3 separate regions of the Homo sapiens genome follow, and regions 1 and 3 are each linked to region 2. Evidence: fine-mapped expression QTL. A gene starts in region 2. Each other region holds a variant in brackets. All regions are shown on one strand. Distances are between the middles of the regions.

The links. PIP is the estimated chance that this variant, and not a neighbour inherited with it, causes the effect.
Region 1: its variant is fine-mapped to the expression of SCN3A in whole blood (TOPMed, PIP above 0.99).
Region 3: its variant is fine-mapped to the expression of SCN3A in skeletal muscle (GTEx, PIP above 0.99). The same link has a PIP of 0.9 or more in esophagus muscle, left ventricle and thyroid.

What each region holds. Positions count from the first base shown.
Region 1 is chr2:165,144,703-165,155,526 of GRCh38, forward strand. It overlaps SCN3A (sodium voltage-gated channel alpha subunit 3), which reads right to left. Exons shown (of 28, transcript NM_006922.4): 11 at 9,750-9,956; 12 at 2,037-2,327. Among named protein-coding and RNA genes, the nearest start is that of SCN3A, 54 kb to the right of the region's middle. The variant G/T (reference allele first, on the strand shown) is at 4,891.
Region 2 is chr2:165,199,550-165,210,373 of GRCh38, forward strand. SCN3A (sodium voltage-gated channel alpha subunit 3) reads right to left here and starts at 4,501. Exons shown (of 28, transcript NM_006922.4): 1 at 4,274-4,501.
Region 3 is chr2:164,964,249-164,975,072 of GRCh38, forward strand. No RefSeq gene overlaps it. Among named protein-coding and RNA genes, the nearest start is that of SLC38A11, 14 kb to the left of the region's middle. The variant G/T (reference allele first, on the strand shown) is at 6,185.

The DNA of each region.
Region 1 (10,824 bases), 55 kb before region 2:
TTTCCCTTAACATTTGTTACCTTCTAACACAGTCTATAACTTATTTATTTTATTCATTGTCCGTCTCCTTTGGAAAAAATTTCCATGAGGTCAGTGGATTGAGTCTCTTTTATTCTTTGAGGTATTTTCAGCATCTTGAACTATGCTTGCTACATAGTTGGCGATCAATAAATATTTGTTGATTGGACTGAATGAACTGATCTACAAAATTTATTTGAGCAAAATGATGAAACAATAAAGGAACTAATACTGCTATCAAATTATGTATATACATTTGTTAGTAATTGAAACTACTCAGAAGTTTGCTTTCCCTCACTTGAAATTCATTCACCGATTTTAACTTAATAAGAGACTTACTCTTTGTCACACAGATTTTCTATATATTGCTTAGTCCCCTAAATCTCTTTAATGTAGGTATTCTTACTTTATTTTACAGAAATTTTACAAAGTACAAGTGACTTGACCAACGTCACAGAACTAGTTTGGAGTTGAGATATGAACACAAAAGTTTGTGTTCACTGTAGCATCATTATGCTATAGTTTCATATACTCTTAATTCTAATAACTCCTAATAGTTTTAAGAATTCCAAAATATCAAAGGTGACTGTTTAAGAAAAAAAAATCTGATCTGAGGAACCAAGTTGCCCTTCAGAGCTTCAAGTTAATTCCAAATATGTTATACTGATTTGATAATATATTTTATATTTGTATTACACAAGATAGTAATAGTTGAATTTCTTGATATTGATGTTATCTGCAGAAAAATGGCTTTATCTTAAAACTCTTTGTGTATTCATGTCCATTTTGTTCTAATATGAGAATACAAGTTTTAAGTTATTAATATAGTCTACTTTTTTCTTTAAAAATATTTGTTTACATATTAAAGATAGATTATAAAACATTCACTGAGAACTTGCATATTACCTTTTCTCCCAACCAAAAGTAAATACTATGTTGAATTTTGTGTTTATTACTTCTGGTTTTTTTTAGAAGTTTCTTTCTTTATGAAAAATATATCATACCCCTTGGTTGATTTGCAGTTTTTGATTAAATTAATCTTATATATTATCTCTCAAAGCATTATTTTTAGGGTATAATTCTGACTCAAGATTGTTATGATTAGAAGCATTTGCAATTCATAGCACATGAAATTCTAATGGTGCCAAATAGTGTTCAAAGCCAAAATTGTACTTATCACAGATTTTGTAACTAATTATTCTTTACATCAGACATATGTAAACAATACATTAACTTACTAATCCATAAAACTTACTAAACATCAAATAATTGAAACTAGTTTTTACTCTTTTACTTAAAACTATGCTGAAGAACCAGGTAGTTGGCATTAAATCAGAGCAAAAATAGACTACCTTTGATGCTGTTCTCTTCAAGAACATTTAGGTCATAATTTCATTCTAATGTATCACGGCATGACCCTATGCAAGCAAAATGGAGACTCACCATAGTCCAGTTCTCTTAATCAAAGGATAAAGACAAAACCCAAAGAACACTTCTTTTCAAAATTTATATGTATGTTACGATCACAACTTTGGATAACAAAGGCAGAAACCCATTCTCAAAGAAAATAAGTTTATCTGGGGTCTCAAAATGGAAAATGTAAACAAGAGATTCCAAAACTCTCATTGAAAAGTCTGCTAGTGTAGGTTATATATATATATATGTGTGTGTGTGTGTGTGTGTGTGTGTGTGTGTGTGTATAGACACATATATACACACATATATATATACAGGTTGATATATAGGTTATATCAATATATATTATATATATCTATATATTATATCAATATATCTATCTGTATATATAATCAGTCTCAAAATGGTGAACATTTTATTAATGGTTTAATAAAAATCCCTTTGAAGACAATCTATTATAAGAATTTAAACAACTATATTAAATGTTAGTTCCCTGTCCCTCACTGAAGTCAGATAGTACAAAAGTGTACCAAAACAAAATACAAAAACTAAAAAGCAATAGCAATGACAAAGAAACCAGAGCACTTAGTAGAAAATCATACCTGATGAGGGGAGCAGAATTTTTTGTCACTGGTCAGTCTGTTTCCATCCATGGAGAAAAGGAAGCTGCTTCTTTTGACGCTGTCTTCAGATTCGGATTTGGGAAAGCTGTCTCTCTCTCCTTTGTTGTTTCCTTCAAGGTGCTCTCTCTGTCTTCTTTTCTTCCTTCGGTTCCTCCATTCTTTAGCACTTTTGGAACTCAACTTTGATGCTTCTGAAGAACTTTCCAACAGCTCTCCTAACCCACCTATTCCACTGAAATCTCTTGAAGCAGCTGATGCTGCCGCAACTGCCTGTCATAAAACAAAGCCAGGCACTATTTAGAACACAGAGCTTTGAAAACAGTTGAGTATGGTTAAAATATTGCCATTTAAGACTCATTAACTACAAGTGAAAAGTCTATCCTCTAGTCCTTTTATTTTGTCTCACCACAAGAGTTTACTTAACAATGACCCTTATGTTTTAAATCATATAAAGCAATATGCTAGTGTATGCATTAAAGCAAGAAAAATCTGGTTTTGCCTATCTTCTGGATTGTCTTTTTTTTGGGGGGGGGGGGTTGGTGACAACTGTTCTCTTCAAAGTGTCTTCTATACTTTAAAAAGCAAATGTTTTCTTCGTGGTGGTTGCTTATCTAACTACCATTCTGATTCCATCTGTAAAACGTTTCCTCCTGTGTGCACTTCTGAGCAGCTGAGTCGTATTTTTTCCCCTCTAAATCCAGTACAAAAGACTGTTTCTTTTATTTTTTGTGAACATAAAACATTTCAAGTGTCTACTATTTTACCTCCAGATGGAAGTAGGGAAATGTATTAGATAGCTTATCCTCTTCCTTCCTTTGAATTACATTTAGGACTGTAGTTCACATCTCTGTGATCATGTTACTCCCAGAGAATTTATTACATATCACTTAAAAAATGTTAAACGTTCATAGATTATTTAATATTATAAATAACAAATGATTAACATAGCATTACATAAATTCATTCAAAGGATTATGAGAACTGCTTCAAATATTTTCTTTCTATATTGCAGCACTAAGTATTCTTAAGCACTTTGAATTTCTGTACCTACAAATGAAACACAGTCAGCTCTGAGGTGAAACATGGCAAATAGTATTTTTAGACTGGAAATGATCTAACAATGACATACAGAGGATATGAAACAATATGGTGTGCATCAAAGCTGAGTTCTCATTAAGTATATTACTATTTGTAAATGTAACCACAGAAGTGAAAATAATTAAATTATGACAATATCAGTTAAACTTTTTACATATGTCATCACTAAATACAAACAAATCTAACTTATCTAATATATTATCTTTCCCATTAACTGTAAGCTAGATAGAAATTGTATCATTGTATGCTCAGTGACTAGTATGTCACCTGACATAAATAAGGCTCAGTAAATAATTGGTGAATAAAGATTTAAAAATGTACTTTGCTATCAATTGTCTCAGACACTGGGGTGGGGGTGGGGGAAGAACAAGACATACTTAACCTTGACTTTGATGCTTCTGAAGAACTTTATAGAACTTATATTTAACTTGCTACAGATAGCAAGTTGACTTTTCAAGACATCATAAAAGACTTGACTTTTCAAGACATCATAAAAGACTGTCATAACAGTCTATATAACAACATATTTTAGGAAGAAATGGAGATAAAACCTATTTATAATGCTTTGACAACACTTTGTGCTTTATGTTTCATCTTTCTTGAGAAGAAGCAAACTCTCCTAAGTAGTTTTCATTTTTAAACTTCATGTTTAAAAATTTAAAAAAGATTTTAAATCTAAAATTACTATGCTGCAAATTCTCTAGGATTACAATGATCTCAGGGAGGGAAACTTAGTACTAAATATGATTTTAAATTTATGTGTTTGACCAAGCAACACATAAAATGTAACATATTTATTTATATTAAGCACTATATTCATAATGGAAGCTCAAATCTAAGACTTGATATAAGACAATACCCAGCATTTAAATAAAACAGTAATTCAGAATTTAGATATTTATAAAATTTTATAGAGTCATATAGCCAGGTTTTTAATGGAATTATTGATCATCAGTATCACTTTTAATATAATTCATGATGTAAAATGAGAAATATTAAGTACATTTTATAACTCTGACTATATATGCAAAATAAAGTGAATAAATGAATCACTTATCTATAGCAAGTTAAATATAGTTACAGAGTTCTGGATACATATGAGGTACATAATATACACCATTTGTTGAAACAGTGAATATATATATACCCTTTCTTATCCAAATAAAGTCCTTAATTCTCTTTTCTATTTTATATAGACACAAACACACAACACACAGTGTTAATCATTTATTGACTTGTTTGTCCCTGCAAACAAAGGAAGTGGTGGTAATAGTCCCTTACCATAATCCTACAACTTATGTCCATTTAAATCACTTCCAAACTTTTTTTTTTTTTTTAGATGGGGTCTCACTCTGTCGCCCAGGCTGGAGTGCAATGGCATGATCTCGGCTCACTGCAACCTCCACCCCCGGGTTCAAGTGATTCTCCTGCCTCAGCCCCCTGAGTAGCTAGGATTACAGGCGTGAGCCACCACACCTGGCTAATTTTTGTATTTTTAGTAGAGACAGGGTTTCACTATGTTGGCCAGGCTGATCTCAAACTCCTGGCCTCAAGTGACCCACCCACCTCAGCCTCCCAAAGTGCTGGGATTACAGGCGCGAGCCACCGCACCCGGCCACAAACTTTGTTTTGCATAAGACATTATTTCCAAACCTATTCTGGGTAACAGTTCAAATAACTCAAAACCAAAACAGATTTCTAAGGCAACAAAGGTAACCTCAGACACATTTTCTGT[G/T]TCACTCATCAACTCAAATCTGTCATTTGTTCCACTTCCAGTGATTTGCCAGTTCCCTCAAAGGCAGATGTTTCCTGTCATCTCTCATGTCTGTGTACCTGTTTATACCCAACTCTGTGACACTACCAATGTCCTGCGTATGAGAATAACTGTGTTACTTTCACAGCCAACTTGCTGAATTCCTCTTTTAACAAATAAGAAATTTCACTTAATATTTACTCAGGAAATTACATTTTCTTATAACATTTTTGTGTGATTCAAAGTAGGCTCTGTAACTCACTGTATCTGTGTGTCCGTAAAAATATAACCACATAACTAATACTTTGTTCATTTTATGTATATAATCCAGTTAAAATCCCATTCAAAGCTACAAGACATTATACCTATTTCTGTTCTACCCCAATTATATTAGATTTCTTAAGAGCTACTATTTCGAATTTTGTTCTAGAGCTTACTCCCAAATTTTTTCCTATCAGAGCAATATAGACTGCTATGGGATATACTAAGCTGGGCAACATTAGGCACTTAAATATCACAATTTAAATGTCAAACACAATTAGAATGATCTAGGACAAAACATTGATTTCTTTGCAGGGTTTGTGTTTCTCCACATTATTTTCTCATGCCTACACCGTGACTAGCCCTAGGTGGCCCCTCAACCAATAATAAACAAAGATGGAAGTGATGCTAGCCTTCATGAAGTCATTGGCTAGATAGTAACTTTTGAAGAGTCGTAGGTGGTTAGGGAGACTTAAGCTACACTGCAGCATAAATGATCTTATAGGTGCACTAATTCTGTCTTTGCCTCCACTTCCTCCTGGCTTCAACATTGATAATTTACTAGTCATCATTACTTGTGTTGTCAATAAGGAACTAAAATGGATTTGGCACTGTGCTACTCCAATCAGTATTATACTTTACCTTGGATAAATTTAAATTTTATATGTATGAAGCTAAAGCTGAATCAAATTGTGATGATTTGGTCACTAAGATTCAGTAACTGACTACTAAGGTAATAGAACTGATGTTTTTTAGCCGAACTCATCATAATCATAGGTTCTTTAAACTTCTACTAGAAATAGTGCATGTTTATTTCTAAGTTCAAAAAGACTATACTCTTTTTAATTGATGTCATATTTTACCCTAAAATGGCTGCATTTTAGAATAAACTCATTATCTGTGTAGGATTTTCAAGCACATTAATTTGTCTTCTTTTATTAATGATAATAGAAAAACCCAGTGCTTTAAAATACAATCATATGCAATTTATGAACATTATTTCCTATAACACTTATTTAAAACCTTGAAATAAAGTATTTGCCCTGTAAATAGCTATTTTTATTTTATTATATTATAAATGTGTTTTATTTATGGTGACATAGAATAAAACTCTTAAATAATTCAAATGTAGAACTTTCTGGCAAGCATGAGGTATATTTTAAAATATTTTCAAGTTTCACCAAATTTGTTTATAGTTTTCTGTATAAAATCAATAAGGTATATCCACATTACTACTCTGTATCCAATGGTAAGATGAAAGTGGTCAAGCTAGCATGTTCAGCAAAAGCTATGCCTAGAGTTGAGCTCAATAATTCACTAAACAACTCATTGCTGTATCTCCATTACCCCAAAAAATGCCTTGAGAAAGGACCTAATGCTATTTGTTGTGCATCTTCAAAGTAACTCAGAATTGTTAAAAACTTAAATTTTGAATATACCAATTTCTGTTATATACTGTCATCCAAAGAATACTTCAAATATGTGGAGCCATTCATCTGAAAAAAATCCTCAAAAAAGTCAGTGCATAAAAATATTATTTGGATTTCTGCTTCTGGCCAAAATTGAGTAACAGAGACCAGATTTGCTCTCTCCTGAAGCAACCAATAAAACAGACAAAATACATGTTACAGTAGTTTTGAAGGCACTGGACATCAGATCAGGATGTTTTAAGATATTGGAAAATGGAAAAGCAAGCAAGTCAGTTCTATGCTTTTGTTAGCTTATGGCCTGGAACTTCCAGACTATGATGTAGAGAGGAAGTATCTCTGCAGACTCCATGAATGGATGAGATGAAGCTGAGTTTAGGAAAATCAGGGTGGTTGTATAGTTCACAAAACAGGGTACCACAGAGGAGAGAGTTGAGCAGAGAGAGAACTCTAGGGATCTTCTCAGGTTCCCCTTGAGTACTGAGAAGATTATTCACCAAGCATGTGTCTTAGAAAACTACCTGAGGCTGAGGATAAGAGAGAACACCACCTGGCAATCACACTGTGCCAGAACAGTGTCTGTTCCTACACTGGCAAACACTTCGTTTTAAATGCGCATTGGGTAGAGTATTAGGAAGGGTCTTGATTCACTAGTGAGGAATAATTAGTCTTAGAATAAATGGTATGCTGGTCCTGCCTAACAAATTTTCAAATGTTTAAAGATACAAAAGGATCAAACTGTGTAAACAACATAACTATGTCCCGAAACAAAGATCAATAATTTTTATGGGAATACAAAAATATCCAGCACTTAAAAAAAGTAAAATTGACAGTGTCTGGAATTCAATTGAAGATTGTCAGGAACATAAAACTGCAGGAATATGTGACCCATAATAAAGAGAAAAATTAATCAAAACTGACCAAGAAGTGACACAGATGTTCAAATTAGCAGACAGGGAACTTAAACAGTTGTTATAACTGTATTGTGTATGTTCACAATGTTAATTAGAGATATATGAAATATAAAAAAGACACAGATCAAGCTTGCAGAGGTGAAAACTACAATGTTTCAGATGACAAATACACTGGATGAAATTAGCGGCAGATTAAATGTTCAAAAGAAAAGATAATTGACTTGAAGACAGCAATAGAAATCATTCAAATTGCAATTGACAAATGGAGTTTAAAACTCATATAGAGTCTTTGCTATTGTGAATAGTGCCGCAATAAACATACGTGTGCATGTGTCTTTATAGCAGCATGATTTATATTCCTTTGAGTATATATCCAGTAATGGGATGGCTGGGTTAAATGGTATTTCTAGTTCTAGATACCTGAGGAATCGCCACACTGTCTTCCACAATGGTTGAACTAGTTTACAGTCCCACCAACAGTGTAAAAGTGTTCTTATTTCTCCACATCCTCTCCAGCACCTGTTGTTTCCTGACTTTTTAATGATCGCCATTCTAACTGGTGGGTGGGGGAGGTGGGAAGGATAGCATTAGGAGGTATACCTAATGTAAATGACGAGTTAATGGGTGCAGCACACCAACATGGCACATGTATGCATATGTAACAAACCTGCATGTTGTGCACATGTACCCTAGAACTTAAAGTATAATAAAAAATATATATATATGAAACTTAGAAAAAAAACTCATACAGAACTACAAGGGACATAAAACAGCCAAAACAGCTTTGAAAAAAAAAAAAAAGAACAAAAAGTTGGGGACCTGCACTATGTTATTTCAAGACTCGTCATAAAAGGTACAGGAATTAAGAGAGTGTGGTACTGGTATAAAAATGACAAATAAACTAAACAGAATAGAGTTCAGAAATAGACAAACTCACCTATGGACAACTAATAATTGACAAAAGTTCAAAGGCAATGCAGTGGAGAATGAATATTTTGTTTTTATGCAGTTGGAATAATTAGATACTCATTTTAAAAAAGTGAATCTCAACATATCACTCATATGTTATACAAAAATTAACTAAAATGGGTTATTTACCTAAATATAAAGCATAAAACTAACTTAAGAAGAAAATTTAGAAGAAAATACTCATGGTGTTGACTTGGCAAAAATTTCTTAGATCCAAAAGAATGATTTAAACAAAAAAGCTAAGAAATAATACTCTGGATAAACTGCACTTTAAATATTTGAGAAGCATATATGTGATATAGGACTTACATCCCAAAGAGTCAAAGAATGCTCAAAACTCAATAATATGAAATCAAACAACCTAACTAAAAAAAAAGGAGGGGATTAAAGATTTGAACAACCACTTCATAAAAGAAGCTATACAGATGGAAAATAAGAACAGAAAAAGGTGCTCAACATTAGTAATTAGGAAAATGAAAATCAAAACAGAAATGAGATACTTATTAGAATGGCTAAAATTAAAAAGACTGGCCATACCAAATGTTGGCAAAAATATTGAGAAATTATAATTCTAACTGGCATGAATCAGATTTTTACTATATATTCGTGAGTCTTCACCTTTCAGTATATGGATTTTTTTTTCTGTCTTTTAATACAGTACTGTGTTTCCGTCTCTTCTCCTCAACACATTAATGTCCCATTCACTATACCCCTAGCTCACACAGCCTTTAATATTAATAAAAATCTCAAGTTGGCATCTAACTTTAGATACCTTCCTGATATCCTGATGTGGGCTATAGCAAACATTTTTTTTTTTTTTTTTTTTTGCTACAGAAATCCCAAAGAATTGTTAAGCATAGGTATATATAAAGTCTCTTGTCAACCTTTAAAATCAATTAACTTCAGAACAAAATCTCAAATGTCATAATTAGGGGTGAATCACTAATAATTGGAAATATCAGTTTTATTTCTTTTCTAAATTAAATAAAAAATTAAATTCCTCTCTTAGGTTCTATGAGACAATTCCATAGTAAACCTTATCTCTAATGTATTTTCTATCCGCTAGCTGATTTCTTTATATACAGTGGCTAAAAAGTTTGTTAGACTCTAACTTCAGAAACAAGTTCATATTTGAATACTTTTTTTTCTAATGACAATGCCTATATATAAAATGAAAAAGCAGTTCCAATCTACCCTCTATAGTATAACACTATTTCTACTTAGAAACTAATAATAATAATGATAAATCTTTGCTTTTATCACTCAGTACCTGAGCTTCTTCCTGTTGCTTTTTAAGCTGTTCGAGCATCTGCTGAAATTCGGCCTCTTTTTGTTCTGCTTCTTCCAAGGTGGCCTGATTCTGCTCCTCATAGGCCATGGCCACCACAGCCAGGATCAAATTCACCAAATAAAATGAGCCCAAGAAAATGACCAGGACAAAAAATATCATGTATGTTTTCCCAGCAGCACGTAATGTCTAGGGGAAATGGGGGATAATTCCATCAGTATTTTAGTATAATGTCCCCAAATAAATATCTGATTACCACAGTTAGATAGTCAGTAGACTAATTAGCTTTTTAGTATCCAGTTTATTTTCACCAAGAATTTTTTGGTATTGATATGCTCAACACACAAAATTAAGAATCAGATTATTTGAGGCTTGACTGCAGTCTTGTTGGATATAAATACATTTTAAACTCATATATAGTGGATATATATGTGAGCCCCACTATAATGCTTTTATTAGAGTTCATATGCAGAGCAATAATATGACAAGTAAGAGCACTGAACCTTTAAATCCTTTCAGTGGGATTCCATTTGCACTGCAGCTATTCTCCATACCATCTATAGATGACTTTTGCTCCCCTCCCCTTCTAGTCTCAGTTAATAGCTAGAGCTTTAATTTGAAATTTTCACATCAACATCACTGATTTTTAAAATCTTTTAACGTGCTGTTTATATACCAACAACTGGATTATCAACTTCTAAGAGTCATGAGCATCTCCAAGTTCCTAGCAGAATGCCTTTCACATAAAAAAGTCCTCAGTGTACATATATAGGTACTGACTCAGTGAGCAATTAGGATTCCTGGCACACTTGCTTTATGTTGGACCTTCCTCTGTGTTCCAGAGTGTTATAAGCAGGTCCTTTCCCTTCCCTTCCCTTCCATTCCCTTCTCTCCCTTTCCCTTTCCCTTTCCTTTTCCCATTCCCTTTCCCTTTCCCTTTCTTTTTTTGAGATGGGGTCTTACTCTGTCATCTAGGCTGGAGTGCAATGATATGATCTCGACTCACTGCAACCTCCACCTCCTGGGCTTGGGTGATCCTCCCACCTCAGACTCCCTT
Region 2 (10,824 bases):
CAAATCCTTACAGGAAAGAAGTGGGATATTAAAAAAAGTAATAAAAAAAAAAAATACTTGGCACATTGAAACTTGTGGTATCCAGTTAAGTAGGTATTCATATAAATTTTAAAGAATTATTCTACTTTAACAAATTATATTTCTGATGTAGATTCAGATTTTAGGTATCCAAAGAGCTGGTGCCTATCAGGAAGTTAATAAAACAAAGTATGTCTGTGCTTAGTAAAAGAGCAAGATTTTATTTATTGCTGTATTATTAAGAGGAAACACTATTCTGCTCCGAAATAGGTGTCTGCACTTGTTACATCCCATTAAAATATAAACAAAGAATGTGTTAATTTCATCCCAGAGGGAAAAATATTTTCAGGTAAAGCTGAACTAAAACAGTAGCTTCTCAATCAAAGATAAATGTGTGAACCGACAATATAAAGCAAGAATATGATTTTCTTTCTTCCAAATTTTCTAACTACCTCAAGTTACAATTGTTCAGTCTACCTCAAGAAGTAATTCAGATGTCAGGTTCTATATGGATTTGCCATGAAAGTTGTTTATAAGGTAAAACGTAAGCATGACATTTTGAAAATGAAAGCAGTTAGAATTAAAATTAATCGAAAATTTAAAACGAACCTAAAAGTACAGAAATAGAGTTAAGTAATTATATTTCACTGGTAGGTGGGTAATTAATCCTCACAGTTTTGGAAAACTGGTAAAACAACCATTAATATTAAGGTGCGAATGAATAATATATTTTTAGGTGACAAATGAAACATGAATTCCCAACCTTCAGTGAGTTCATGTTTCTATACATAAATGAAAATCAGAAAAAAGTAATCTTCACAGCTACCTATGTAAAGAAATATCACTATATAATCAAGTGTTAATTTCTTGGTGAAAAAAAATCTTTAAATGCTTATTCTTATGGATGCTTTTAGTTATCATCAACCCTAAAGATAAGAACTCGTAAGAGCTGGGAGTGACCTAGAACTGAGAGACAGATGAGCAACAAATTCCAAGCACCGCATTTGTCTAGTTGAGAAACACTACCCTCATATTTTTAAGCCTCCCAAGCTCTTAGCCCTCTCAGATCTGCCTAATCAAGAGTCCATTAAGTCATCTTGGCTGCCATGAAGATGAAGCTGACAGCGCAGTTACTTGAGTCAGTTTAAAGAGGCCTAGGGTGGTTGAAGGGAAGGATTAGGAGGCCTGGGGTGCTGAAAGGTCATCCAAGTTCTAGCTCCCAAAGACCCCAGTAGCACACAGCTGTCAGGAGCACGAAGCTACACTTAGAAACAACCTTTGGAGGAAAGCAGGGATTTTGCAGTCCATCAACCATTCATCAAGCACAATTTGCCTTTCCACATCTTATTGTACCGTTAATAGAATTGAAGCATTAGAGAGTTTGTGAGTTGATCACATAGCAAAGACTTTCCTGAGATTTAGGTTCAGTTATCTGGTGGTCTTAGTAGAAATTACTTGGCGTTTAAATGTGGTTTTGGTGAAACCTAGATTCCCTTTGTGAATCTTTACAGAAACTTCGTCTAACAGGTATATCCTCTTAAGGCAACGTGAAATAAGGCCCTTTGCCTCTATTTTCATAAGAAGAAGAAAGTTTTGAAGTCCGTGATAACATATTGGGCATAAATAACTGTCTTCTGGAAGGCATTATGAGTTCTATAAACTCTCCAGGAATTGCCTGGAATGTTAACACTAAGTGATACTATTATAGGTACACAATTGTTGTTGTTTCAGCAAGGGCATCCTTCCAGGATGAGAATTATTCACTTTTCAGGTACATAATTATTTGGCAGTTTTATTCTATCCTTCCTGTTGTGGTGGAAGATATTATATCACCAGCACTAACGATAACAATAATAACAATGATGAAAATTTATGCCTTTATGTTTGTCCTGTTCCTTTTGATGTGAGTTAGGATGGCAGGGAGAGAGAGGAAGGAGGTTCGTAATCATGTTCCAGGATCTATACCAAGCACTGAACAGACATTATTTTAGTTACACAATCCTGTAACACAGGCATTATTATTCCTATTTTAAAGATGATGTAATAAAGGCTCAGAGAGTTTAAATAACTTGTCAGGTAATAGTGGCCATAAAATGTAACCTGCCAAGCTCTTGCTCTTAACCACTTCTCCATGTTGTTTCCTGCTTGTTTCCACTACAGAAGGAACTGGCCAAGAAACGCCCCTATTTCTCTATTTTACCACTTTCATGTTTAGCACATCAATCATAATTTACAACTCAGTGAGAGTCAAAGTTGTATCTTAATTAAGCTGAGAAACCAACTGAAGAAAAATCCAAATAAATGAGGATCAGAAAATTTTAAAAACAAAGTATTCTTATACAGCTTTGATTCTAATTTCCTTCCTTTGTAGGCAAGGAAAATGCTCTTCAGTGATACTTGGGGTCTTTTCTGAGACAACAAAACTCACTAGTAGCAGAACATGAACCAGATCCCAAGACTTTCAGCTCAGGGTTCAACCTTTTTATCTTCAGTACTCAAATAAATCACAGCATTTTTCTCAACTTTACAAATGAAATCACCACTACATTCTTTTAAAGAGTAAGTTATTCAAATGTGTTTGATATATCATTTAATCAAAGCAGGTTTAATTTCCGAAATTTTTGAAAGAGCGCATTTTGTGAAGTGAAGAACTCTGAGTGTATTTGCTTTTTCACATGGCGACCACATGTATAGATGAATAACTAAGAGACTGTTGCAACTATACCAAGAAAAATAAAAGCTAACATTTGGGGCCAAAATTAAGCATTCATTCATAAATGTAAACCAGTTCAATCAAGACCAGCTCTGATGCTTACTCAGAACAAAGTTACTCACATTTAGTCACCTGTAGAGAAGCATGGTGTGTACAATACACTCAAGTTAATTAACAGCCATTTCTGGGAACCCTGTCCAAAGAAATAGTTTTCTTTATCTCCTATGGTAGGAATTCTTCTGAAATAGACAAGACCCAGGGCTCTCCTCTCAGGCAACCACTATTTTGAAATGTTTTTGGGGGGACTATTATTGCTACTCAATGTAAAATATTAAGTGAGATGTCAATATTTTTCAACATATCATTAGGAATTACAGTTTGGAGGCCTTAAGTTCTATTTTTGAAGCCCTTTTAGCCAGTACTGACTGGAAGCCCTGTTGAAATCAGAAGTCTTCATTTCATATAGGGCACACTCTATTTGGAGTGAATGTGATGAAATGTTTCCATGCAAATTCCTACAAGCACTTATGCCTTTATCTTTGTCCTCATAAGCCACATTATACTACCTGTTGTGTATTTTAAAACCCTGTATGATTTTTAAAACTTATCTTTCAATTAATATGTATAGATTTTCTGTCAATAATTTCTTATTCTAATTATGTGGTGGCTAACTGAATGAAACATTTATGGTTATGATATAGAATATTCTAAATACAACTACAGACAATATGGATCATAGATAAAGTAAATTATTGTTTTATGGCTCCAGTGGTTCTTCCTGGTAATTAATAAAAATAAACAGTTATTAAATATATACAGAAAAACAGCAATCTATCAAGCTTATAGAACAATTAAGAATATATAATAATCTTTAAATCAATAAATTAAAAGGTAAACATTTAATATAAAATGAATATATTAAAGGATAAAGAAGTAGCATATTATGGAACATATAGAGATTATTTTATTTTTTGAAGGTTCAACCTCTTTTAAATGGTTAGTATTGGTGTTCTTTTCTCTATGAAAACAGATTTTAGAGAAAAATGATAGTGTATTTCACAAAGCCAAACACCTCTATATTGTTATCACTCCCTATATGCATGGCCTCTCTAAAGCTGTTAAATAAAAAACTAAAGCACAAGAATGATAGTTCCAATTTCACTATACATTTATGTTTAAAAAATACTGGACACACTGGGCATTTAAATAGATGACATACAGCCAGGAAACTCATTAGACTAGCTTTAAGTATAATAAAAAATATTTTTTCTGAATACAATTAATCATAAGCATCTACAAAAACACAAGACCATTGATGCCTAGTATGTACCATAAATCACCATTTCCAGACAGGCTCTATTTTCTTTGAAAGATAAAGAAATAGTAAGCAGTTTACACATCAAACGATGCCTTTGGTTCCTGTAATTTACATTTAAACAACACTGGGTTAAAAATAGCAGCATGAAGATGATTTTAAAGTAAGGAAAATGACCTGGTAGCTAGGTTCTATGGTGCAGATAATGAAATGTTTTGTCAGCTTACCTGATAAAACAGAGCCTTATGAATTACAGCATAACAAAGCCCAGCATCCAAGATGGTTAGGGTATAACGTGTCTTCCTCTGCAGCTGTTCAGCTTTTTTTTTTTTTTTTTTTTTTGACCACAGAGGTTTACAAATTAGTTACAATTTTTTTTCTTTCTTTCTCTGTGGATAAGAAAACAAAGAGACCTTTCCAGAATCCTCTCTGCTTATGCCTCCGCTTCCTGTTCTGAGATTCACTCTATGGTACCCAACATATATCAGAAAACAGCTTTGAGGAAAAAAAAAAAGAAAGAAAAAAAGGCCGATCGCACTCAAAGTGGTACCGCCATCTACTGGCGGACACACACAAAATTGAGCCAAAGAAAAAACATTCCCATTATCCTCTGTCACAGGGAGGAAAGTAAACCTGCATGAAGCATGGGTAGTCATGAAAGTGCCCCAAGATGACAGTAGAGAGGTGATGTGAGCTAAAATTTCCCAACACACTAAAAAAATGTAACTTATCTACTACATATAAATATGTATGAGACCTTTTACATATTCAGTTATTTGCATCTCACTAATTTTTTTAAAAAATTTTATCACTTTGTTGTTTTGCATGATTGTTTCACACATAAACTACTAAAATTAAAAGATATATAAATTACTGTTTGAAAAATAGGTTTTAAGTTTACATTACCCTTTACGTGTAGAGTTTTGCGAAAGCTCCCTTGTGGCCTGCTCTAGTCTTTTGAAAACCTTTTCTCTTCCTGGGATGAATTATTTTCAAGGTGAGGAATTTGACTCCTTAGAGAACAGTGTAAACACATACTCACTGATAGTATTTTTGTGTTGCTTTCTGGTAAAACATTTGCAAGAAATATCTAAATGTAGAAAAAGATTCTATACATCAGTGAACCTAGCTAATATTATTTATTAGGATATTGAAGCACACAATACATAAAGAAAATAAAAATAATCCATCAGTTATTAAGATATTTCTCAATCCAGATGTATGTTATTGTTTCATCTGACCTTTCATATCTACTTTAGAGCAAACAACTATGATTTTATTACAGTTTATCATCAATTAAATAAATACATTCATATTGACAAACCAACTGTATGGATGGACAAAAATGATGTCAAGTATTATATTAGACTTGAAAAGACACAGAGAGAAACACACAGTGCCTGCCATAAAGGAGCTCATACAAAGAAGAAAAACAAATATAGCTGATACCATATTTCCCAGCCATGTGTTCAAGAACTGTTAATTACATACTTCGTTTTCAATTGTGGCCCCCATTTTGTCTAATGGCAGAAAAATAAATCTAGTCAGTTCCAGGTAAACTAAATTACTTGAGGCTTTTCCCAATGATTTTGGGTTTGCATTCAACCAATACATGATTTTCCTCTTCTATCTCTCCTTCTCATGGAGACTGATCTAAGTTCAGGATTGTGTACATATATAGAGAAAGCAGAGTATGATCCCGTTCCCCCTTTCTCCACATGGGCATCCACTGAGGCCAGGAGTCCTGCATGATCCATGACCATCATTATCCCTCATATCTACTAACGTACCCACAGGCCCACTGGGCCCCGGGAATAGCATCCCTCCAGCTTTGCATGGCAGCATCCCCTCTTTGTCACTTCTTCCTCTAAGGAAACTTTTGTTCCTGTCCTTTAGGAGGAGAGAAGAAAAAGCAGCATGTTCCCAGGGTCACTCTTGGCTGTAATTGGCTGACTTAAGCCTTCCTCCCTGCCCCAGGCGCCTCACACAGCCATCTCTGTTCTGCTGTTTGTAAACCATGGGATGTAATGCACTCTGCAGGCTTCAGGCAAGCGAGGCACAATCTCTGCCACACTAGAATAGTGTAAATAGATGGAAACTTCTCATCTTTTCATCTTTTTAGCTAATCCTAGATTGGCAAACTATGTAAGGAGCCCTTATCAGAGACTCCTTTCCTTCTTCATAACTTCCTTCACAGACTCAAAAGAGTTTTTGCTTGGGTCTCTTCTTTCTGTACCAAAGGTAAGCTGGAGCCACTTGTTTTCCCTTGAAATCTTTTTGTCTTATGTCTAATGTATCAGTTTACTAGGGCTGCTGTAACAAACTGCCATCCTGAGGGGCTTAGACACAGAAATCATTTTTTTCACAATTCTGGCTACTCAGAGGCCAGAATCAAGTTGTCAGCATGATCATGCTTCCTCTGAAACCTGCAGGGGAAGGATACTTTCTTGCTTCTCTTAGCTTTTAGTAGCCCCAGATGTTCCTTGGTTTGTGGCAGCATAACTCCAGTCTCTGTCTCTGTCTTTACATGGTGCACTCCCTGCATCACTGTCTTTACGTACTCCTCCCTCTGTGCATGCCTCTGTGTCAAATTTTCTCCTCTTTATAAGGACACCAGTCACTTTGGTTTAGGGTCCGCCCTCATAACCTAATTTTAACCTGATTATCTCTGTAAATACCCTATTTCAAAATAAGGGCATATTCTGAATTACTCAGAATTAGAACTTTTTGAGAGGAGGCACAATTCAACCCCTAACACAAGAATTTAAATATAAAGCACAAGAATTTGACAATTCTTCTGTCCATCTCCAACGACAATTCCACTTAGGCAATAATAGCCTTGGCTATCTGGCCAGAATTGGGGAGGGTAGGGGAAGAGCCTCAGGTAATGATGAAGACATTTAATAATATTAGTAACAATAACAAAACTAACATTTATTGGTACTATGTGCCAGACATTGTTCTAAGCACTTTACATATGTTCATTTAAACTTCACCCATATGAGGTATTATTATACACACTTTACAGGTGAAGAAGCAATGAAATGTGAGGGAAGTAAAACGTAGTTAGTACCTGATATGGTTTGGCTGTGTCCCCACCCAGATATCATCTTGAATTGTCAGATATCATCTTGAATTGTAGCTCCCATAATCCCTACATGTCATGGGGGGCACCTGGTGGGAGGTAATTGAATAATGGGGGCGAGTTTTGCCCATGCTGTTCTAGTGATAATGAATAAGTCTCATGAGAGCTGATGGTTTTATAAAGAGGAACGTGTCCCCTGCACACGTTCTCTTGCCTGCCACCATGTAAGATGTGCCTTTGCTCTTCCTTCACATTCCACCATGATTGTGAGGCCTCCCCAGCCATGTGGAACAGTGAGTCCATTAAACCTCTTTTTCTTTATACATTACCCAGTCTCAGGTGTTTCTTTATGGCAGTGTGAAAATGGACTAATACAGCACCTCACATCTCATCCCAACACAAGCAGTTGTAATCGGGTAAGATCACTCATAATACAAGCATTTGTCAGATGCTGAAAGAACACAAAGGAAATCAGCTTCCACTAATTTAGATCATTGATACTCACACGTTTAGTGTAAATTTATAACATTTCATTGTTTCATTGTGTACACTTTCTGTCATGAAAGATTCCTATTTTCTAGGCACTTTTAACTTTTTCTTCTCTACTCATGAACAAACTAGCCCTGCTCACTGTCTCTCAACTAAATGTTCATTAAGTGCCAGTCCCTACTGCTCCACACTCATTTTACCATTACTAGTAATATTTAATAGAATATTAATTCTATCACTCAGTTTTGGGTATCCAGATGCTCCAAAGAGTTTTCTGATGACGTCTTCTGAGGAACTGATTTTTCTTAGGTTATACTGGGCCACATTTTAATGAGAACTGGTTTGAACAAAATAAGAAAAGTAAATGATAATTATTGTGGCGATATTCCTCATAGAAAAAAAGAAAAATAAATAAATGCCAGCAAAGAGAGCTTTACTCTTTGTTGCTGAAGAAACTAATTTATCTTGTCATTAAAAGTAGAAAATTATATAAAGGAAGAGTGACCAGAGGTGTGGTATCATTTGCTATGATTCTAACTTCATTGTGACTTTCGTACTTTTTTTCTGTAGACAGAACGACAGGTAGTTTGCAAATCTTCAGTGAGTGGATTCTGAGAGGGTTAAGGTGAAATAGTCATTGATTACCAACATAAGGTCTCTGGAGCCTTAGTGGTGTCTGACCATATGTTGTAAACATATCATGCATAAATCACAGAAATTCACACTAGAAGAGAGCTAATAGCCTCCAGCTGGGACTCATAGGTTGCTCTGTGCATGTCTACTGTTTCTGATTACTCAAGGTCTTCAGAGCCTTTGTGGGTAGGAGCTATAATGCTGGTTTCTATTTGATTTTATAAGCTTCATAGCCAAAGAATACTTTTTGTAACATCCATAGATCTACCAAAAGATTCCCAGACTCTGGCCCAATTTTCTTGTTTCCTAGACCATTATTTCCCAGACAGTGATTGGAGGAATACTACTGTTCTGCTGGACTAATGAAGTGCCACTCCACATCCACCAGAATGGCTACAACTTAAAAAGGCTTATCATACTGTTTGTGAGAATCTAGAGCTACAGAAGCTGTCAGAGACTTCAGGTAGGAATGTAAACTAGTATAACCACTTAGAAAAATGGTTTGGCATTACCAACTGAACGTGAGTCTACTCTGTGAGCCAGCAAGTGCCACTCTTAGGCATATACCTGACAGAAATGTGTGTGTGTACAAGAATGCCTGTGGAAGCATTATTGAAAACAGGTCAAACAAGAAAGAACAGAAATATCTTGAACAGGAGAATGGATATAAGAATTGTGGTGTATTCTGAATCTATAGTATCATACTAACATGAAAATGAAAAACTGCAGCTACCCACAGAAATATGCTGGATTTCACAAATCTGAGGCTGAGGACGAAGAAGGTATGTAAGCAAAACATTATTAAATTTAAAAACAGGACTGGGCGTGGTGGCTCAAACCTATAATCTCAACATTTTTGAAGGCTGAAGTGGGAGGATCACTTGAGCCTCCAGGAGTTCAAGACCAGCCTGGGAAAAATGGCAAGACCCTGTCTCTACAAAAAAAATGAAAAAAATAAAAATTAGTTTGGTATGGTGGTGTGCACCTGTCCAGCTACTCAGGAGGCAGAGATGGGAGAATCACTTGAGCCAGGGAGTTCCAGGCCACAGTGAGCTATGATCATACCAGTTCACTGCAGCCTGGACAACAAAGCCAGATTCTTGAAAGATAAAAATAAAAACAGGTTAAATAAACTCTAATATTGGAAGTAAGAGCATTGGTTTCTCTTGAGATAAGATAGAGCTTTTGGCAAGATTGGTTGAGATAAGGGCTATTCTGGGTACTAGTAAGATCCTATTTCTTAATCTGGGTAGTAGTTATATAGGAATTCACTTCCTGGTAATTCATTGAGCCAAACATTTATGCACTTTTTTGCATGTGGATTGTACTTCAAATTTCAAAGTAACAGGCGAGTTTTTTGACAGTTGTCACCTCTGAGGAAGAAAAAAGTAATGAAAGGTGAAATAAGTGGAATTTCCAGGATTTGATCTGTATATATCTGTTCTGTTTGAACTTTGTATGCTTATTAGTGTAATAAGAAGTGCATTATTAGTGTAATTTTCAAAAAATAAATTTAAGGCATTAAAAGTACAGTAAAGATGTACCTTCATACTATTTGTACTTATTTACCTCTAAGTTATTCTCTTTTTAAGTTGAGTCTAGGATGGCATTCATCATTATTTTAAATTGAGTCTGTCCTGGAATTCCTCTTATGCCAGAAGGCCTATTCAAGCTGATACTCAGCTTCTATGCTTCTGTCTTCAGTCATCTTAGTAACAAAGTTAACTACCACTGTGTTTGCATGTATGTTAAATAAACAAAATTTACATGTCATCTACAATTTCACACCTCTATAGTCTAGTTTAGATTTGTATCTCCTGATTGTAAATACTGAGACTAACTCACTTTTGCCCACTGCCTAATATATTATGCCATAAATTACACAATGAAATACATGACCTGACAAAAGATAATAAAACACTTTTACCTTTGTTACATCTTCTTCCTTTAAAACATCTAAACAAGTTGAGAAGGGTAGATAATTTTCAGATTTTTCAGGTGAGAAAAATTGGTACAGAAATGTGAAAATTACATGATGGTTAAAAATTGGCCAAATAAAACAGGATAATTGCCAGTTTAAAATATATGCATTAGACAATATGATTTTATATCAAGGGCTCATTTCAGATATAATAACTGTCAAATATTATTTAGAAGGTGTGCTTGATTCAGCAATATTAAAAAATTTTAACCTGTATTATAAAAGAACAATAGAGTAAAACATACTTTCCAAGTGGCTTCCAGTATAGATTACCTTCTGTGCTGTAGTTGCACAGCTATGTAATAGCAATTTTTCAAAGGTGTTGGGTCACTATGCCTTTTTAGTTGCCATTCCTTTGGTTAGAAATTACTTTCCTTTATTGCCATTCTCACCCCTATTTCCCTCCAACATCTGGAAAACTACTATTTATTCTTGAAAATGCAATTAGGGTAATATACTTGATAGCTTGTCCTGATCTTTCCAAGTGTAAGGTATCAACTTAACTGTACTCCCTGTCATACTGCTATACACATCATTAATGGAGGAGGTGAAAATGATTCATCCATTAAAATGACTGAATATTCTTAGGT
Region 3 (10,824 bases), 240 kb before region 2:
TTTATTCCTTTACTTTCTTAATAAACTTGCTTTCACTTTACTCTGTGGACTCACCCTGAATTCTTTCTTGCACAAGATCCAAGAACTCTTGGGGTCTGGATTGGTACCCCTTTTCTGTAACATCTTCATGCCAGCTATAACGTGAATAACACAATGCAAGACAGTGGATAAGCAAACTGTGATTATCTTCAAATAATATCAGCTTTTATCACTCACTAATGAATATGCCCAAAACACACCCAAAATGACAGGGTAGAAGAACCAAAATTGGGGGCTTGGTACCCTTTAGTATCTTTTAGTCAACGTGATCTATGAAGGTTACACTAGAATAAGTAAGAGCTCATTTACCGATTTTGATCTTTTTTCTTCTTTTGTTTTAATGAAGTTCCATTTGCATTATGTCATCCCTGTATCAGTTCAATTTGGCCTGGACAAAGGACATTGTATACCCTTAGGATGGGTTGGCCAGGAGGACCAGATTCTGGCAAGGTAGTACACTTGACAGAGACTACTAAAGAACATGCAACCTGGGGCACAGAGTGGAGTGGAACCTTGGCAGTAGAAGTATTAGGGACAACTGTGACTGTGCATCCTCTCCCAGCTACAGCAGTGCCTTCTTATATATGATGTTTGCTAGAAATACTCTTTGCCACAAAGAATGACAGTGGTGCTAAAATCAGGAAGTGGGAGCAAAGGGACCAAAAAGACTTTGTGGTTAGAGACAAGATTGCCCATAGTGTAGAAATGTGAGGCTGGCAAACTTTCCCCACATCTCTGAATCTGACTTAAGTCTTTTTCTTTCTGGTCATGGGTAATTTTGTTTACTCCTAAAATACAATACTCGATCCTTTATTGCATGCCATAGCTAAGTATGGTTGTATCTGTGGGAATGGTAAGCTTATTGAGGGAAAGGATCACGTTTGTGTTGCTATTGATGAAGTTTTTTTTTTCCCCGCTGAACGTAGCATAGTGATTCACACAGTCACTGCTGCTCATTAAAAATGTTCCAAATGGAAGAAACAATCCAAACAGGAATTAGCAATTAAAAAGCCTTGTTGTTAAGTGACAATAAGATTCATGTGGACAGCAATAAGGACCATCAGGAGAACATTTAAGTAATGAAATTATGATGTTCATTTGCCTCTAGGGCCTCTAAAAGACAGAAAAGCCTGGCTCATCTCCATTTACTAATGCAACCAGAATATTTTGAAAAATACATTTTAGAAAAGAGTGATACAAAATTGTGATACATTTCTAACCATTTGACAAATTAACACTTTGTTTTTAAACCCAAATGTAGTGTAATATTATTGTTATTCATACAATAATTAAAGGATGTGTTAAAATTATTTATTTATAGTGCTTAAAATGGGGTGGTGTTATAATGGGTCATAAGTTTAAGATTAAGAGTGACATGTTTTAATTTTAGTGTATCTATGCTGCTGTAGGTGTAACTGCCCAGTGGGTTCTTCCTGCCTGCTACGCAAACAAAATCAATTCACAGAGACCATGGCATTTCAGTAAAAGAAGAGTTTAATTGACATGAGGCCAGCCATTGCTATGTGGGAGATGGAGTTATTATTCAAATCAATCTCTCCAAGAATTTTATGGCTAGAGTTTTTCAAAGGTAGTTTTGGCGAAAGGGTGGGGGTGGCGAGGCAATAGGTGCTTGCTGCTGATTGGCTGGGGGTGCAATCACAGAGATGTGGAAATGGTCTTCCTGTGCACTGAGTTGCTTCTGGGTGGGGCCACAGAAGCTAGTTTTTGGTGGGTTTAGGTGGGGCCGTTGGTTATGAAACATGCAAAAAAACCTGAAAAGATATCTCAAAAGGCCAATCATAGGTTCTGCAGTAGTGATGCTATTTGCTGGAGTAATTGGGGAAGTTGTATATTTTGTAATCTCCAGAATAATGGCTAGCAATCCTTTATGTCTGCACCTTAGCAGAATTCAGGCTCTTCTATCCTCTTAGCCTGGTGGTCTTTCCTTTGCTTTACAAAAGCAGTTGAGTTTATGGGAAGGACTATTATCACTTAAACTGTAAACTAAATGTTTCCCAAAGTTAGCTTCGCCCAAGTCCAGGAATAACTAAGGACAGCTTGAAGGGTTAAGGCAAAAGCTGGGTGGCTAGATCGGATCTCCCCCACTGCCAGTATTTTCTTACTGATACAATTTTTACAAAGGTGGTTTCATAGATATAACATCACTAATCTGAGGCTTTTCAAACATTGAAAGCTCAAGCCAAATGGCCCTTCTCAACTGCCTGTGACAGACCACTGTCTATCTTAGAAGTGTTTAGTAGAAATGTATTAAAAAGATGCTAAGGACACCCAAAAGACTAGCAATTGAAGTTATACATTATCCACTCACATTTCAAAAGGATTATCTACTCATCCTCTATAAGGAGGGGAAAGAATGTGCTAGGTTTCACAAATCAGACCCAATGCTGAAATTGCCCCAGTAACATATCTGAAAGCTCACAGGCTGTGATTAGGAAAACAATGTAGGATCTATTGAATATGCCTACATTTCTCATTTTTGATCATTACTAGTTACCAATAAAGATTGTGTGTGTGGCATTCTATAGATTCTGAAAACAAGATATGTATGCTCTATAGTTTGGAACCAATGTTCATTATAAGTTGACTAACTTGATTAGGTAGAATAAGAGATGTACCAAATGAGTGAAATAGATATATTTGTTGGAGCAATTTAGAGGAAGTAATGATCATAAGAGGGTGGGGTGGGTGGTCAGTGATATTTGATGGAAGGCTGGAAACGTGAAATTTAGCCTAGCAAAAATGAAGTTTAACTTACAAATATAACATCCTGACCTTGAATCTGAAAAACCAACTGTATAGGTGCAAGGTAAGAACATGTGTGTTATCTCCAACTCATTTCTAATACTGCTTTTAATTAACAAGAAGTTTAAATAATGCAACAATTTAATGGGGCTGAGAAAAAAGTCTAACACAGTCAGGTAAAGTACTTGTAATAAATTACACAGAACAAGGATGACAATAATCCAGGCCATCTGTGTTGGTCACACCACACATGGACTATTGTTTTCAGCTCTGGAAGCCACAATTTGAGGAAAGTTACAGATCAACTGGGACATTTACAATTGAGAGGGATCAGAATAATGAGAGGATACTGAGTCTCACAGTGCTTTAAGTAGCCAGAGAATAAAGACTCAGAGGTTGAAAGGCTCACTCAATATAACCAATGGCTTTAAAACCTAATTACTTAGAGATGTCTTGGGATAAACTGAGTGGTAAATTATTACTAGAGATATTTAAACCTGAGCGTGACCACTGGGCAAGGACATTGTAGGGGATGACGAAGGATAGAAAGGATGCTAGGTGTTCTCCTTTGCTTGTGAGTAAACAAAAACCTACTTGAGCTTCTTTAGGAATGGGGAAAGTGGTGATTAGAAAAATTTTTGTAATGAATCTAGGACTAGAAAATTTGTCAAGATTCCAAGTATCCCTAGATTTTTCTTTTCTCTGTCTGTCATGGCCAGCGTGATCTTTTTCTCATGGAATCTTAGCTTTTATCTGTAGGGCTACTTCATTATTCTCTTGCAACTGACTGGTTAGTCACTGAGTTCTCTGGGGAAAATTCCAGAACAAGTGAGTCTGACAGGCTTAGCTACATACCTTTGCCTCCACTGAGCACAGCTTGTTGAACCACACCTCCTCCTAGGAGGCTGCCAGCTGTTAAAAGATAAACTTAAGCACATTAACATTTTAAAGAGTTTATTTGAGCAGACAGTGATTCATGAATTCACAGTGCCAAACCACAACCAGGTTGGGCTCCACTGAAGGGGAATAACGGAAAAAGTTTTATTAGGTGTTCTCGGAAGCAAGACAAAGAAAACATTTGATTGGCTAAAGTAGGCTTAAAGTCCCTAGTTAGAGGTTAGTTGGCAGTTTCTGATTGGTTAAGCTTAAGTTCATTTTCCTAGGCTATGACCATTCCCTCTGAGTTGGGTTTGAGTTCGCATGTAGGAACTCAGGGGACTAGAGCCACCTCAGTTTGATGGTTTCCCAATTAATTATTTTAACACGGCCTAGGGATGAGCTCTTCTTGGGCTAGTTACCAATCCCTTATCCAGTCAATGGGCCATTGTGCCAGCTACAGTGGCTTCCCTACAAAGCAGTAGGGAGTGAGAATGAAGAAAACAGCTTGAGCTAAAGGTGGGTTTGAGCAGTGGCCTGCAGTATGGTTCATACACATGGAAACACTAGATGGCATTAAAATTCCTCTACCACTTGTAATTCCTCTATTCCATGATGCTAGTGTTACCGGAGGGTCTTTGTATTTAGAACTCCCACGTTGGTGGCGGCTGCTCCCAAGATGGCGGCAAGCCTTTTGTTCTCTGACCTGGGGTTCTTGGCCTCATGGATTCCAAGGAATGGAACCTTGGGCCATGCGGTGAGTGTTATAGCTCTATTAGAAGCTGTGGGTCACGGAAGAGAACCGTGGAACCCAGCCACTAGTGTTCAGCTCGATTAGGATGAACCCAGGCACTTAGCCATGCAGGAACAATGGCAAGCCTCTAGCCCGATCGGGAGCAGCATTGGGTGCCTCTCTGGATCAGAAGTGCAGCAGACATCCTTCCAGATTCGGAGGAGTGGAAGTCAGCGGCAGGTCTGCGATAGTGGCGATCAGCAGTGGTGGACGGGGAGCATAAGCTCAGCTCGAGCTGGAACAAACACAGACCAGAAGAGTGTGCAGTTGCAAGATTTAATAGAGTGAAAACAGCTCCCATACAACGGGAGGGGACCAAAGGGGTTTCCCAATCCGGCTTGAATGCCTGAGTTTATATCCTGATCATTGTCCCTCCCCCTGTGCATTTAGGTGATAGATGATTTGACTATTTCTTTTTTCACCGAATTGGTATTTTAGTGAGCTCTCTTTACTACCTAATGGGTCGGGTGTGAGCTGAGTTACAAGCCTCGTGTTTAAAGGTGGGTGTGGTCATCTTCCCCAGCTAGGCTTAGGAATTCTTAGTTGGCCTAGGAAATCCAGCTAGTCCTGTCTCTCACTAGTAGGATTAGAATTCGACCTTATCATTAAAAATGAGATAAGGAGAGGGTATTAGTCCGATCTCATGCTGCTAGGAAGAAATACCCAAGACTGGGTAATTTATAAAGAAAAGAGATTTAATTGACTCACAGTTCCACATGGCTGGGGAGGCCTCAGGAAACTTACAATCATGGCGGAAGGGACCTCTTTACAGGGCGGCAGGAGAGAGATGTGCCAGCAGAGGAAATGCCAGACACTTATAAAACTATTAGATCTCGTAAGAACTCACTCACTATCACAAGAACAGCATGGGGGAAACCACCCCAGGATTCAATCACTTCCCATCAGGTCCCTCCCATGACATGTGGGGATTATGAGGATTACAATTCAAGATAAGATTTGGGTGGGGACAAAAAGCCTAACCATTTCAGGGAGAATATGACAATTCCTGATATGGAGAATAAGAAACATGTATCACTGGGGTAAATAAAATAGTAAGGAGAAAGGAGTTTTTGGAATCAAATAAAGGTAGATTCTGATTAGTTTTATTATCATTTCTCATTACTTTTTAGTTTATAATATTGTCTTTTATTACATGCTTTCCTTCTGTTAACTTTGGGGGTACCACGGGCCTATTGCTAGACAAACAGTAGCAAAGGTGCACAATTTGCAAAGATGTAAAATATATTTTTGAGATATGAAGCACTATGAATGTTTCATGAGTTAAAAATAATATGTCATAGTAAGTGGCTTCATTCTTATTAGCGGTTGATTTCTCTATATCATCCATGTGAGAAAATGAAGTGAAAGCAAGAATGCAACAATGCATGTTTCCCCCTTGATTTCTTGGTATCTCTACCTTTTAAAAAAATTTTACAGAATACATTTGTTTTTAATTTCAGTTCATCTTTCTTTTACCCCTTCCTTAGCTGTGTTCCTTTCTCAAAGTTCTTGCAATCTACTTCTTACTCACATGAGACCCTAAGGTATTTTCTAAAAAATGTCAGTATGAACAAAGTGACCACTTGCCATAGGAGCTCAGCCTGACTTTTAAAAGAAGTTTTAAAATAGCATGGGTAAGAATCATATGAATCCATTTAGATTTGTTATAAATACTACTACCTTTTTCAACTCAATGTCCAAAAGGACCTTCAT[G/T]CCCCTAAGGGCTAGAAAAGGAAAAACTCAGACAGCAGCCACATTCCCATGACCTTGCTTTGCAGGGGCCTGACCCAGATGTGGTGGGAAGCACAGGACAGCAAATCTCTTGCTGAATCTTTTTATGCATGAGGTTGGCCTGGCCTTAAACGTCCCTACTACAATGACTTAAAAAATGGTGATTAAATAATGTAAAACATATTGCCAATAAAATGTAAATTATCTAAAGGAAAGAAGCTACAGACTGAAAGATTGGAAATGTTTAAAAGTAGCAAAATCCAAACCAAACCGTAAGAAGACAGTGTGGAGTGTGTGTGTGTGTGTGTGTGTGTGTGTGTGTGTGTGTGTGTTGTAAGAATCAGGTGGTGTGTCCTACTGAAAAGCCTGTGCATTTTACCAATTGGTGCCTTTTGGGGAAAATAAGAGCAATCTAACAAGTCTAATGCATACACGCATATGTGCACACACACACACTCACACAGAATTTAAATGCCGGAGAAGAGCGAAAATAAACCATGTACACTGTTCCCTTTAGCTTAAATAGCCAGTGGCTATCAAGGCACCATAACTCCTTTTAGATTCAGGTACACGGAAAAAAAACCTTTTCATTTGTATATTTTTCTATGCCCTAGTTAGAAGAAATATTTTCCTCTTAGAAATTCCTTTTGAAATAATTTTCTATTCCACAGCAAACTCTGGAATTATTACTGTTCCATTATTCATTTGTTATAGGTTCTGTTTTGGTTCAAATTATCTCTAGTTACTTTTCTGTTAAGCTACTAACTGACATTATTTGAATCTGATAAGATTCAAAGGAGGCAACTTAATTCCTTCAGTGATTTCAGTGATAATAAAAATATTCACAAGAAACATGGTCTTTAGTAGTTAAAGGGTTAATAATACATATGCATGATACCAAGTTCTGGTCCTTCACGAAACAGGAAGTCCGGGTTCCAGGATCAGTATTGTGAAGAGCTCAGATCTTCTGGGTTGGTCAATTGGGCTACACAGTATCTCTGGAGAGTGGCATTTGGGGTCCAGAAAATGGTGCAAACATTTAAAAACTTTTTCATCATGTCACCAGCTAGCCCAAATAGAACCTGTCTCAGATGGAAATCTAGGAATTTCTTTTTCTTTCTTTGCTAGCTTCCTTTTTCACCCCTTCCATCCATCAATTTCCTCAATCTATCCTTTCTTCCTCTTTCTTCCCAGAGACTGGATTCCATTTTGGATGGAGTGGTATTGAGTCTTTACTATTTCATGTCAGGAGATTTAGGTCCTTATCACTGTGCTCAGTGGAACAAGGAAAGGCTGATGCTTCTTAACACTATTAACTGCTACTTATGTATTTACATGTGCACAGTTTCTATTTGCTCTTCTTAAAACACCTTCCTCACCATTTTAATTTGTAACATCTCCCCCTCCCCACATACATCCTTCAAAGCAAGGAGCACGAGCATCTGCAGTTTTACGAAATTAATTGACTGAGATGGTGGCGGCGTCAAGTTTTTTTTTTAGGCAATCCAATTGGAACCAGAGAGGAGGAGAGTGAGGGTGATTGGTGGTGTTACTTGTTTGTCTGGAAGTTGCACTAGCATAGCAAACATATTGTAATTAAGACACTACTTTTTTTCTCTCTCACTTTTCCCTTTAAAATTTATTCAATGGGGAAACGTTTTCCTGCTACTGAATGACATTTCCAACAGCCCCCATGACCACTAGGCAATAGAGTCAGAGGGTCTCAATTTAGTAATTAAAGCTTTGCAGAGAAGCAGGTGGGAACCTGCAGTCTGGGAGGCAGTGGGAAGGCTGGTTGGCTTCGCATCTCTTACTTGACCCCCTGCCCTCCTCATTTTTGCCGAACTCAGATTTTGGCAGCTCTGGCATTTGAAAGTCTGGGAAAAGCCTCTCTTTCAAGTTCATACATGACTGATATTACTGTAAGCAGACTTCTTAAAAGATGAAAGTGTTCCCTTTCTCTTGTGAACTGATTTCATGGGTTCTGAAAATCCCTCTGACATCGCTGGTGGTTTCTCAACTCAAATTCCTGTCATTACCTCAAAGGTTGTTTAATTCCTCCGAAGCTCCTGGAAATCTTCAGAAAACTGAAGCACTGCACATTTTATTTATTTATTTATTTGTTTACTTTTGAGATGGAGTCTCTCTCTGTTGCTCAGGCTGGAGTGCAATGGCACGATCTCTGCTCACTGCAACTTCCACCTCCCGGGTTCAAGTGATTCTCCCGCCTCAGCCTGCCAAGTAGCTGGGATTACAGGCACCCACCAGCAGGCCTGGCTAAGTTTTGTATTTTTGTAGAGATGGGGTTTCACCATGTTGGCCAAACTGGTCTTGAACTCCTGACCTCAGGTGATCCACCCGCCTCGGCCTCCAAAGTGCTGGGATTACAGGTGTGAGCCATTGCACCCAGCCAGCACTGCACATTTTAAGTGTATGTTCTATGCGTTTTGAGAAAGGTACACATGCATGTAACCATCTTGCTAATCAGGATATAGACTATTTCCATCACCCCCAAGGAGTTCCCTTTTGCACTTTGCAGTCCGTCAATCTTCCTCTACCCCTTAGCTCAGACAACCACAAATCTACTTTTTTCCATTATAGATTAGATTTTCCTGTTATAAATTTTTATGCAAATAAAATAATATACGAAATACTCATTTGTGTCTGGCTTCATTAACATAGGATAATGATTTTGAGATTATTCATGTCAATCAGTGTTATCATTCATTGATTTATTTCATTGTTGGATGGTATCCCATTAAATTGATATACCACAATTTGTTCATCAATTTACTTACATGTTTTTGAGTTGTTTCCAGTTTTTAGCTATGATGAATAAAGCTGCTGTGAACATTCATGTACAAGTCTTCGTGTAGAAAATTGTTTTCTCTTGGTAAATACTTAGTGGTATTATTGGGTAGTATAGTAAATATATGTTTAGCTTTACAAAGTGCTGCACCATTTTAATCTCCCACTAGCAATGTATGAGTGTTCCAGCTGCTCCACATTTTTCTCAATATTTAATACTGACAACTTAAACTATTAGACAATCCAGTGGATATATAGTGATATCTCATTTAGATTTTAATTTGCAATTCACTAATGATATACTATTGAGCATCAGATCTTTCATATTGTACTTTAAAACTATTTTGCTAAGACACATACCCAGCATATGGAAGACCCTCAATAAATATTTATTGAATTTATACAAATTGAACACAGAAAATGCAGCTCATCAGAGGATTTGAGCTAATTTCCTGGCATTTATGAAATACTGAGCAAGTTGTCAAATGAGAGCACTTAAGCTAATTCTCAAGTATTTAAAAGAAAGTGTACATCCTCATCTGTCTACCAAATATGGTCTCCAGGCAATTTGCTCAAGGTCAAATAGTGGTGGAACAATGATTAGAAACTACACTTTGTCGTCCTCAATTTAATTCTCTCTATATTTGACTCAGGATAAATGTGAAACATTGATTTTTCATATCATTTTATTGAATGTATGTTTTATTCAATTACTGTTTTGCCACAGTATCTCTCCCTGTTCATTATTAAAAACTTCAGCTCTTGATAAAAACCTAATCATCACCTAAAATGTATTTCCTTTCATAAAAATGTATTTCAAGTTCCAGATACTTGATTAACAAATGAACCTTTAAATAAGTGTTTATTTGGGGAAACTAACATATTAGGTAGCAACTTTGTTTCCCATCTTATTATTTTATAAACAATTAAAGGTTAACCAATTCAAAGGTGAATTGCCTTAAATAAGAAGTGATCTATGTATTAACTCTGAGGCCTGTAATTGCATTTAGCTGTAACTCAAATGAGTTTTGTGTGTGCTGTGTGCAACTAACTGAAAGTCTGGGATGCTCCGTTGCTCAAGCCAGGGCATCAGTACCATTTAAATACTTTGTTAAGATCAAACAGCCAGCAAGAAACAATTCAATAAATATCCCTGGTTTCTACAAACAGAAGTTCAGATAAAAAATTGCCTGAAGCAAAATTCTATTTAGATGAGGAAACAGGAAATAGAGCATTATAATATAACTCTGATGTCAAAAACAGGAAACTTCTGAAAGCATCATTCATTTAGCAATTTTGATTAATTTTTTTAACCAAAAAAACTGCTCTTTTGTAGTACTTTTTAAAAGAGAAAAAAGGGGAAAATGCCTTACTTAGACCTTCGCACACATTTTATTATTCATTTCTAACATGGCACATCACATTGACAACTCGTTTTAAGTCTGAATTTTTCTTACTAAGTAATCATTTTGTATATGCTATTTTTTCCATTGAATTACAGTGTATGAGAGGCAGTCTCTCAAATCACCAGATAGAATATGTGACAATCCATTTAGTTTGTAGTCAATGTTCATTATTCCTCTACGTTTCTTTATTTTGGTAGTTTAATCATAGTTCTTAACAACTGCCTTGAAATTTAGAGATAAAAGTAATGTCTAATTTTGGTATCTTTAGTCACAAAAATAGCTGTGGAACAAACTGTAGACTAGGAAGACAGAAGGGTGAGTCTTCAGATATCCTATTTCATATTAGTTGAAGAAGATTTCTTAAAACATTCCTGTTTCTCCCTACATTTATTCAGGAATTGGTTGAGG